Linked DNA regions of Homo sapiens. The protein of the gene in region 1 purifies or fractionates together with the protein of each later gene. This does not show direct contact. Each region holds a gene or a part of one and is shown on either strand. Other genes may lie near its edges. The genes, in order: SLA2, MACIR and TARBP1.

Region 1 (3,652 bases):
GTCACTCAGCGGTGGTGGTAAAATCTTGGCTTCCCTCTTCCTCCAGGCTGACCCTGTCCCTTGTCCCTCTCTTTCGCTCCGCCAGGTGGCTGTATGAGGGCCTGAGCAGGGAGAAAGCAGAGGAACTGCTGTTGTTACCTGGGAACCCTGGAGGGGCCTTCCTCATCCGGGAGAGCCAGACCAGGAGAGGTGAGTAAGCTCGGTGCCAGCCCAGGCCCTCCCTACGTGGAGGTCTCAGAAAGGAGCCCACAGATATATGGCTGCAGGTGCGGCCCAGAAAATAGGCTTTGCCTGACTTCTCAGTCAACCAAGATTTCCTGAGCCCCAGCTCCGTGTCCTGCCCATATGAACCATGTGGAGCCCAGGCTGGGGGAGATGGAGACAGGCCATGAAAGCAGAGGAGAGGCAGCTAACTTTGGAGCAATCAAGGGAGGCTTCATGGAGGAATAGACCATGAGTGGACCTGGAGGAGTGGACCTGGGATCCTGAGGGATGTTCCCACAGGATCCCAGGCAACAAGACACAGTGGTGCTGGGGTGGGCCAGTGGGCTGCACCTCGGGACAATAGGAGGTTAGAAGTGAGCAAGCTCCAGCACAGAGGCCTTGGATGCCGAGCTGAGAAGCTTTGGTTTTCTCCCAAGGCAGTGGGGTTGCTACTCAGCAGAGACACAGTGCTGGGCGTGTGTTTTGGGGGAAACGAGAGGATGCATTACAGGGACTCTCTGAGTGTGTTCTGTGGGCCACCTGCTTAGAAGTAGAGGAGATGGGGGGTCAGTTTAGGGGACCCCGAAAATCGTATCCTTCTCTGAGAGGTTCACAATCCGTGTTAACACAAGACTTCTTAAGGCGTCGCGTTTGCCTAACTGGGCATTTCCCAAGTGTTTCTGACACAGGAGTGTTTCATCATGCAGCACCAGTCAGAGTCACTCCATGTTCATTCATTCAGCAAATGCTTCTCCAGCACCTATGATGTGGGGAGGCTTCAGGGAAGGACAGGACCTACTGTATGTGTCAGGCCTTAGGCATCTCTGCTGAGTGAGGTGGCCATGGTCCCTGCTCTCAGGGAGCTCCTGGGTCACTGGAAGCCAGTGTTCCATGGCACAGAGTTTGGGAAACATACCTCTATTTGAGATCCACAGTGATGCCAGGGCTTGCCCCTCCAATGCCAAGAGCCAAGTGTGATATGACTTGAGGGTGGGGCAGAAGGCCAAATGTGAAGGGCTGGAGTTCCTAGCCTTGGTGTCTAGCAGTCTGGCTGTCATCTGCCATGTTGCTGCCATGAGAGCCTATCAGCAATAGAGCAAAAATCTGCATTTCTAAAAATAATACAGGCCGGGCACTGTGGCTCACACCTGTAATCCCAGCACTTTGGGAGGCTGAGGTGGGAGAATCACTTGTGCCCAGAAATTTGAGACCAGCCTAGCCAACATAATGAGACCACTTCTCTACAAAAAAATTTAAAATGTAGTGAGGCATGGTGGTGCATCCCTGTAGTCCGAGCTACTTCGGAGGCTGAAGTGGGAGGATCACTTAAGTCCAGGAGTTCCAGGGTGCAGTGAGCCATGATTGCACCACTGCACTCCAGCCTGGGCAACAGAGCCAGACTCCATTTCAAAAAATAAAAGTGAATGTGAATGGCCCACAGTAGGGATCTAGGCTCAGCCAACACATTGGCAACTAGGATTTTTAATAGAGTATAGTCACAGAATTTCTCTGCGTTGACTAGGAGGTGATTCCTCCTTCCCCAAGACACAACATGATTCTGATCTCTTGGCAAAACATTAAAATGGTGACAGGATCTCTTGGGTCAGTAGCCAGTCAGAGCTAGAAACCCACTGGAAGTCATCTCATGGATCCTCCTCGCTCCACTGTACAGACTGAAAAACTGGACCAAAGAGGAGTAGGAACGGGCCACATGCACATTCATGTGGGGCTTCTCCCACCCCAGGTGCAGGGTCTTTTGCAATCAAAACACAAAGTTGATTGTCTCTTTGATGACCCTGCCTCCCTCTGAGCTGCTGCCCCTGAGTCCTTTAAGGCAGAGGCAAAGAGGGATGTTGAAGGAGCAGCAGCCCCCACGTTTATGTTAAGCCCTTTAAGTGACTTAAAACAATGTATGGGGATTGTACTTCCATTGTCTTCATTTTACAGATGGAAAAACTGAGGCTTAGGGAAGAGAAATAATTTGCCTGGGGAAACACAGCTAGTAAGTGCAGAGCCAGGATTCAAACCCAGCCACACCTCCTCTCACTCCAGGCCCCCAAGAAAGGCCCACGTGGGGCAGTAATGTTGGCACTGCAAGCATAGCAACAGACCAGGGAAGGAGGTATCAGGAATGGACAGACCTCCTGGCGCCCGCCTTGATATGAACCAACTGTGATAGGCTGTCGGGACCCTTCGTTCTCTGCCTCAGTCTCCCTCCCAGGACCCTTTCCAGCTTCTTTGTCTCTCCTCTCCTGCCCTTGGGCGTTCTTGGGTTGACCTCTCTGAGGCCCCTCCTGCTATTTTCTAGGCAGCATCAGCACCCCCACCTCACATACATCCATAGGCTGGTAGAGGGGCTGGGGAGGCCAGCCCAGCACAGCAGCTGCAAACAGGAAACCACAGCAGCGTTGCGGAGTGGAGCAGGGCCCCACTGCAGACTGTCCCCTGGAGCTTCAGAAGCCACAGGAAGTGCTCAGTGCTCAGCTCCCCTCCCCTGGCCCATTCTCTGGCCTGGGTCAGCCCCAAGAATATAGTGGCTGGCCCTTATGGCCACTCTGCCCCTTACCTAAAAAGACACAGATGCAAAGAGAAAACTCTGTGAGTGAGAAGAGAAAGCCGTATGGAGACTTTTTTTTTTTTTTTGAGACAGAGTCTCACTGTGTCGCCCAGGCTGGCGTGAAGTGGCACATTTTGGCTCAGTGCAGCCTCTGCCTCCTGGGTTCAAGTGATTGTCATGCCTCAGCCTCCCTGGTAGCTGGGATTACAGGCGAGTGCTACCACACCGGGATAATTATTATACTTTTTTGAGACAGAGTCTCACTCTGTTGCCTATGCTGGAGTGCAGTGGTGCGATCTCGGTTCACTGCAACCTCCACGTCCTGGGTTCAAGCGAGTCTCCTGCTTCAACCTCCTGAGTAGCTGGGATGACAGGCACATGCCACCATGCCCAACTAATTTTTGTGTTTTTAGTAGAGACAGGGTTTCATCATGTTGGCCAGGCTGATCTCAAACTCCTGACCTCAGATGATCCACCCACCTCGGCCTCCCAAAGTGCTGGGATTACAGGAGTAAGGCACTGCACCGGACTATTTTTTTTTTTTTGTATTTTTAGTAGAAACGGGGTTTTGCCATGTTGGCCAGGCTGGTCTCAAACTCCTGACCCTCAGATAATCCGCCCACCTTGGCCTCCCAAAGTGCTAGGATACAGGCATGAGCCACCGCGCCCAGCGGGATCCATGAAGATCTTTAAAGACTCATAAGATCCACATAAGGCCTCACCTGAGGTCAGGAGTTTGAGACCAGCTTGGCCAACATGGCGAAACCCCATCTGTACTAAAAATACAAAAAAATTAGCCGGGCATGGTGGCAGGTGCCTGTAATCCCAGCTACTCAGGAGGCTAAGGCTAGAGAATTGCTTGAACCTGGAGGTGGAGGTTGCAGTGAGACG
Region 2 (3,550 bases), on another chromosome or scaffold:
TGCCCGCTCTGAAACGTTTAGTAGACATAGTTACATGTCAGTGGTACATTGACTGTCTTTCAGGCAAGTGTTACTTCATGCTCCCTGAGCCTTCTAAAAGGACCTGGCCTGGCCCAAGTCTCTGTGCATTATATTCTTCTAATCTAAGTCTGTTTACTTTTAGGATTGTGCAGACTGGTGCTTAAAATGGAAGTCGATATTAATGGAGAGTCTAGAAGTACCCTGACCACCTTGCCCTTCCCTGGGGCTGAGGCCAACTCCCCGGGAAAGGCGGAGGCAGAGAAGCCCCGCTGCTCCAGCACACCCTGCTCCCCGATGCGGAGGACCGTGTCAGGCTACCAGATCCTACACATGGACTCTAACTATTTGGTTGGCTTCACGACTGGCGAGGAACTCCTGAAGTTAGCTCAGAAGTGCACAGGAGGTGAAGAGAGCAAAGCAGAAGCCATGCCATCCTTACGCTCCAAACAGCTAGATGCAGGACTTGCCCGTTCCTCTCGTTTGTATAAAACCAGAAGTAGGTACTACCAGCCATACGAGATTCCAGCTGTCAATGGCAGGAGGCGAAGGCGGATGCCAAGCTCAGGAGACAAGTGCACTAAATCTTTACCTTATGAACCTTACAAGGCCCTCCATGGGCCTCTGCCTCTTTGTCTTCTTAAAGGTAAGAGGGCTCACTCCAAATCTCTGGACTACCTCAATCTAGATAAAATGATCAAGGAGCCAGCTGATACAGAAGTGCTACAGTACCAGCTTCAACACCTAACCCTCCGAGGGGACCGTGTGTTTGCTAGGAATAATACATGAATGACTTGGAGAGAGCTTAAACCAATTTAGGTCAGCCTACGCTTGGCTAGAAAAAACCCACTGCTGTACTCTGTACATGACTCTTCACACTATAGATGGTTATATCAGCTAAGTGTTCCTGGAACATAAAAATTGTTTGGGTCAAATTTGAATACAGGAATGAAATCACAGGTACTTGGGGGGGGGATATCATTCTAGAGCACGCAACTGCAAAGAAAACAGAATGTTGACTGTTAGTTTGTATAGCTTTTTAGCTAGGAAAAAAAGGCTTTGGTACAGTAATTTCATCTTTATGATTCTGACACTCAAATTGGGAATGTTACCTGCTTGGTTGTTGCTGACTTGATATGATTCATTAGAAATTTATATCTTCAGTACTCAAGTACTTCTTGAATCTCTGTATTTTACTATAAAATGTATGTAATGATTTGTTTTATGAAATTTAGAACTTGAACATTGCTGAATTGGACCACTTTTTATTTTTAAATATTGAGTTTAAATATTTTATAACTGGTTTTGCACTGAAAAAATTAACATTTCAGATTGACAAGAGAGTAATCTTTCTTCACTTGCCTCAATAATGTTATTGAGCAATGAATTTTTTATTTCCGCATGGAAAGTTATTGATCTCTATGGCTGTAAAATATTTCTTTATAGCGTTATTAAAGTGTGTCTTAATAAAATTAAATTTGGGATACAAAGTATTTATTTTACAATGGGTGGGCGGGGGAAACTTTTCCAGAAAGTTTCCAATATGACGTTTTCATAAGTTGAAAAAACTCTCCTTAGTGCTTATTTTCTAACTTAAAATTCACCTGGAACTTTAAATGGGAAAGGATTCTTTTAATTGTGGATTATAGGCATAATACTGTTTGCATCTGAATTTTCTGTAAGTGAATAATAGTTTAATAGAGGAACTCATGATTTGTACTATTGAATGATTAAACTAAGTATGAAGTGATACCATTCAGCATGGCATCAGGTCATTGCAGTTTTAGTTCTGTGTAACACAAGCACTCACTGAAATTCCAGTTTCTAGGATTAGTGTAGGAGCCTAACGTGCTTCTACTGTTTTAATGGGTTAATCCTGGATTACTTAACAATTTATGTCAATTGCACTGGTTTAATTTGTTGCTAAAGAAATAATGCCCTGGGTTTAGTAACAAATACAGCTCAACTATTCTTGAATATATTTTGAAAAAAAAATGTATGTAACTTACCTTTTGTAAACGTTCCATTTCTTTTTTCCCTCATTTTTGACTCTTAAAGGTGCAATTTATTACTGAATTGGGATTTCTGGCAGCACAGAACTGCTTTTTATTTTGGGGTCTGTGAGTTTCTTAGGTATTAGCAATCTTGCTTATAAAATAAGAACACCTTTTAATTAATGAGTGGGTCATTCCTGGTGCAATTGTGATTTTTCTTTAGCCAGAATGAATGGCAAACTCTATTTAGAGCAAAGTAAGTATTAGAAAACCCTAGGAACTCTTAATCAACGTTTATTACACTTTCATTAAGGCAAACTACGTGAAAGAGCCTTGGGGAAGTTGGCCCATATCTTACTAAGTTGATCAGATTTCTCGTTGGGCTGGAAATGTTTCGCTGTTGTATATTTTAAAGTAAATTGCACCTTTGTAACATATTGTATTGACGAATGATCACTAAGATTAGCTATATCTATACAGTCATTAGTTTGACAAGAAATAGAATCCTGTCAGATGCCAAAGAGTGGGATTTTTATGTTTAATGATTAAACACCATTATTTATTGACAATTTACCCTGTGGAACTGTATTATTTCTAACTATGAAATAAAGGGGTGATGTAAACACACATTGTTGTGTGGTGCTTTAAACTAGGTCCACTATCAACAGGCTACTTACTGTTCAAGAATTCCACTGAAGCACTTATTTTAAGGCCCTATTTTTCTTAAACAAAACAGTGACAACAACAATCAAACCATTTACTTTTGATGCTCATTGGCATTTTATGATAAAAGATGTATTCATGGCAATGATATGTATTCACCCTATTAGGAAACACAACTGGTTACCTATGAGACCTGTTCTGTCCGTGTGCCTACGTTCCTTAATAATAGCTAAATAAAAATTTGTAGCTTTTTTTGTTTTGTTTTGTTTTTTCCTGAAAGACAGGTGAAACTCTGTGGCAAAAATAGGGGGGTTAATAGTATAAGATATGGCATACTTACTCTTTTTTGATTAGTAAAGATATATAATTTTAAATTTGGTTTTCTAGAAAGAAAGTTTCAAAACTCTAGGCCAGTAATTTTCACAATGTGTTTGCAGAACCCCTTTATTAGTTCAGTCTTACTTTCTCTGCACCCCATGGAATTGTAGCCTATGGTAGGTAAGAACCAATTTTTTTAAAAAAAGGGTAGGCTGGATCTCTTTTAGTTGAAAAACAATCCCTTTTGACATGGTTTCTATTTTTTAACTTTTTCATTTTTTATTCAATTTAATATTCCACACTAAATGGGGCACACTTGGCCAGAATATACCTGATGATATTATCTTACTGTTCTTGCCCTTAAACATTGCAGCACTATATAACTTTAATTTTTTTCTTCTTTTGCAAAAGTACCGTTTGTTTGAAGCTCAGATGATGCATAAAGTTGCAGTAAAATTTCATTCCTTGCCTCAATCTGAGGTGAGCTTCTTTTGCTCTTCTGACTTCCATTTGGTTGCATTTTACACCTCTGGGTGCAGGGCTCCCATAGTCAGTAG
Region 3 (3,752 bases), on another chromosome or scaffold:
TTGTGGGTTTAATTTGCATTTCTCTGATGACTAATGATGTTGAACACTTTTCCAAGTGCTTATCATTTGTGTATCTTCGTTTGTTAAGTGCTCAAGACATTTACCCATTTATATTTGTTAGATATATGTTGACAGAAACAATAGTTTTCTGCACATTTTATGTTGAAGGTAATTGATATTTACTGACATGTTAAAAGGGCTTAAAATAGAAACATTTATGCATTTTGTCAATGAAAAACGGAATGACTGAAATATGAAAAAAGTCTTGCCTGTGTAATGTCAGATAACCTTAAAGTCAGATAACTTTATATAAAAATAACTGTAAATTTAAATAACTAATTTTTGTCTTATCCATTATGTTATTATATGTCAAGCTCTTTGAAGTTGGGACCCTGTTTTCTCTATTGACTAAGAGGCAGATCTTTGTGTTTAGTAGCGAAGAAAACCCTATGTCACTGATCTAGTTTGTCTCAAATTGAGCCAGGAACCAAATCCACACCATGCATGCCGAGGTGAGGTTTTCTGTTTCTCTATTTAGCAATGGATGCTGTCAGAAATACAGAAAAGACAGACACAGGGACTATTTTTGAGTTTGCACATGGGAGCACATGCATTGTGCAGGAGGCTCTGCATCCTGGAGTCATCTTGGGCACTTGGCTGTGAGGGCTGGCGTGGGCATCTTGGTTTTAGCTGAATCCTAGCACATTGCTATAGGTACCTCTAAGGCAGGAGAATAGGGCCTGGAGGCAGGGAATCCAAAAACTCCCTAGAACCAAATCAGATAGAAACACTTCAGCTATGACAGGAAATATCCTCTTCATTTACATAGGGAGTACACCAAGTAAATAACTTTGTAACTTCATTTTATCCTCTTCAGTTACATAGTGTGTACACCAAGTAACCAATTGAAACCTCTATAGGTATTTAAACCCCAGAAAATTCTGTAACCAGCCCCCCTTGAGCGGCTTGCTTGGGTCTGCCCCCACCCTGTGGAGTGTACTTTTGCAATAAATCTCTGCTTTTGTGGCTTCATTCTGTCTTTGCTTTGTTTGTGCGCTTTGTCCAATTCTTGGACCTGGACACCCTCCACCGGTAACACTTCTCACTCCTGGCCTTACGTCTAAATCATTCTTGTGTTTTCATGACTTATTTTTAATGCAGATGTCCAGAACCAATTTCAGACCTACTGTGTCAGTCTCTTTGTGGATGGTGCCCATCATGCAACGTTTGGAAAATAATCTAAAGTGATTCTGCTGTGCACCTTCTGTGAACTGGTTTATGCTCACAGGCACGCCTGATTTAGGGTCCTGGGCAGACCAACCTCCAATCAGGAATCGATGAAGCTGGTGTAGATACTACATTAACTTTTAACGAAGGCCTCGTTTCTCCTAAAAATAAGAGACCAGGTGGGTTCTATCTAGGCAGGGTTGGTGGCAGGAACCCAAGGGAAGCTGAGCTGCACCAAGCCGGGCTGGGATCCCCCTCTCTGCGGCCGCGCGCCCGGCTCCGTCGGCGCACGCGCACGTAGGGGCCGGCCGGTCCTGTGCGCACGCATCGCACACGCCGGCGCCTTCCTTTGGGAGCCCGGGCCGGTGGCGCGGGCGCTCGGCAAATGGAGTGGGTGCTCGCGGAAGCGCTGCTCTCGCAGAGCCGGGACCCCCGGGCCCTGCTTGGGGCGCTGTGCCAAGGGGAGGCATCCGCGGAGCGCGTGGAGACGCTGCGCTTCCTTCTGCAGCGGCTCGAGGACGAGGAGGCGCGCGGCAGCGGGGGCGCAGGCGCGCTCCCGGAGGCGGCGCGCGAGGTGGCTGCAGGGTACCTCGTGCCACTGCTGCGGAGCCTGCGCGGACGCCCCGCGGGCGGCCCGGACCCCAGTCTGCAGCCTCGCCACCGCCGGCGCGTGCTGAGGGCGGCGGGCGCGGCCCTGCGCTCGTGCGTCCGCCTGGCCGGGCGTCCGCAGCTGGCGGCCGCGCTGGCTGAGGAGGCGCTGCGCGATCTGCTCGCCGGGTGGCGCGCGCCTGGCGCCGAGGCTGCCGTGGAAGTGCTAGCAGCCGTCGGGCCATGTTTGCGGCCCCGCGAGGACGGGCCGCTACTGGAGCGCGTGGCGGGGACCGCCGTCGCCCTGGCGCTGGGCGGGGGCGGGGACGGGGATGAGGCCGGGCCTGCCGAGGACGCGGCGGCGCTGGTGGCCGGGCGACTGCTGCCAGTGCTGGTCCAATGTGGCGGGGCGGCGCTGCGGGCCGTGTGGGGCGGGCTGGCCGCGCCTGGGGCGTCCCTGGGGTCCGGCCGCGTAGAGGAGAAGCTGCTGGTCCTGAGCGCCCTGGCCGAGAAGCTGTTGCCCGAGCCCGGCGGCGACCGCGCCCGCGGCGCGCGCGAGGCGGGCCCGGACGCCCGGCGCTGCTGGCGCTTCTGGAGGACGGTGCAGGCGGGGCTGGGCCAGGCGGACGCCCTGACGCGCAAGCGAGCGCGCTACCTGCTGCAGAGGGCGGTGGAGGTGTCGGCGGAGCTGGGGGCCGACTGCACCTGCGGGCCCCAGGAAGGAAACGGTACCTGCCTCTTTGCCCCCCAGCCTAGTGCTACCTACTTGGCTGCCCCAGAGGGGAGTCTTCCTGCTTCTAAAAACTAGCTTATCGGGGTCGTCACTCCGATCCATGCAGAATTTGGTTATTCCGCGTTGCTCCCCTAAAGCCTGAAAACCTTTGGAACCCCTTCTCGAGGGTGTTCTTTGAAGTCACAAATCACTGCGGTTGGGAACGTTCTAACCCAGAGCCGGTGGAATACAGCACCCCTGGAATAGTTTAGGAAGATAATGGAGCCCGTGCAAGATTTTACAGACCCAAATCTGCACTATATCATGGTAGATTCAACCCAATAGAAACGGTTGATATCTATCAAGTTGAAAGAAAAATTATTTGTTATTTATCTGTACTGACCAGTGAATTAGTGAATTGAGTGTTGAGTGTTAGAATTAAGCGTCATAGAGGCCATCACACTCTTCTGAAATTTCCCCTGGTAATTAGGAACAGGATTTACTAATATTTGTTAAACATGTTTCTTAAGTCGACCTTTTGAGTGTATTTTTGCCATTGATTTAATAGAATGAATCAGATTTTATTTTTTAACTGTTTGAGCTTTGCTCCCTACTATGTGCAAGAGTAATGAAACAGCAAGGCCTCCCTTCAAGTTGTTACGTTACTGTTGATTGGTTTGACTTCACTCATGTTAAATTTGGGTTTAAACTGTCAAGTACAAAGTAGATTGACTCAAAATTGTCTCAATAGAATATTTCTACTTTTTCAACGGTAGCTGACCATTTATTACAGGTAAAGGATTTTTGTTTGGCTGAAGTTATGAGGTTATATTTTCAAGTAATTTTAAAACATTAGAGAGTAAATATTTGAACAGTCCACAGATAGGTGTGATCATCCCTGAGAGTTTTCACTGGAAAACATTTTTTAAATCATCAAAAATTAAAACATTCATTTATTTACATGAGTCTGTTATTTTGCAGTTTTGTTTGTTTGTTTGTTTGTTTTATGGAGTTTCGGTCTTGTTGCCCAGGCTGGAATGCAATGGCACAATCTCCGCTCACCGCAACCTGCACTTCCCGGGTTCAAGCGGTTCTCCTGCCTCAGCCTCCAGAGTAGCTGGGATTACAGGCATGCGCCACCATGCCCCACTAATTTTGTATTTTTAATAGAGACGGGGTTTCACCGTGTTGGTCAGGCTGGCCTCAAACTCCTCACCTCAGGTGA

Evidence for each region.
Region 2: the proteins of SLA2 (region 1) and MACIR purify together in Homo sapiens (affinity purification with mass spectrometry; one large-scale study listed by BioGRID and IntAct). This does not show direct contact.
Region 3: the proteins of SLA2 (region 1) and TARBP1 purify together in Homo sapiens (affinity purification with mass spectrometry; one large-scale study listed by BioGRID and IntAct). This does not show direct contact.

Annotation. Positions count from the first base shown.
Region 1 is NC_000020.11:36,629,132-36,632,783, reverse strand, and holds part of SLA2 (src-like-adapter 2), read left to right. Parts: intron 1-85; coding exon 86-189; intron 190-3,652. UniProt on the Homo sapiens protein: Adapter protein, which negatively regulates T-cell receptor (TCR) signaling. Inhibits T-cell antigen-receptor induced activation of nuclear factor of activated T-cells.
Region 2 is NC_000005.10:103,275,734-103,279,283, forward strand, and holds the end of MACIR (macrophage immunometabolism regulator), read left to right. Parts: intron 1-163; 5' UTR 164-186; coding exon 187-807; 3' UTR 808-2,927; downstream 2,928-3,550. UniProt on the Homo sapiens protein: Regulates the macrophage function, by enhancing the resolution of inflammation and wound repair functions mediated by M2 macrophages. The regulation of macrophage function is, due at least in part, to its ability to inhibit glycolysis.
Region 3 is NC_000001.11:234,476,964-234,480,715, reverse strand, and holds the start of TARBP1 (tRNA (guanosine(18)-2'-O)-methyltransferase TARBP1), read left to right. Parts: upstream 1-1,536; 5' UTR 1,537-1,612; coding exon 1,613-2,543; intron 2,544-3,752.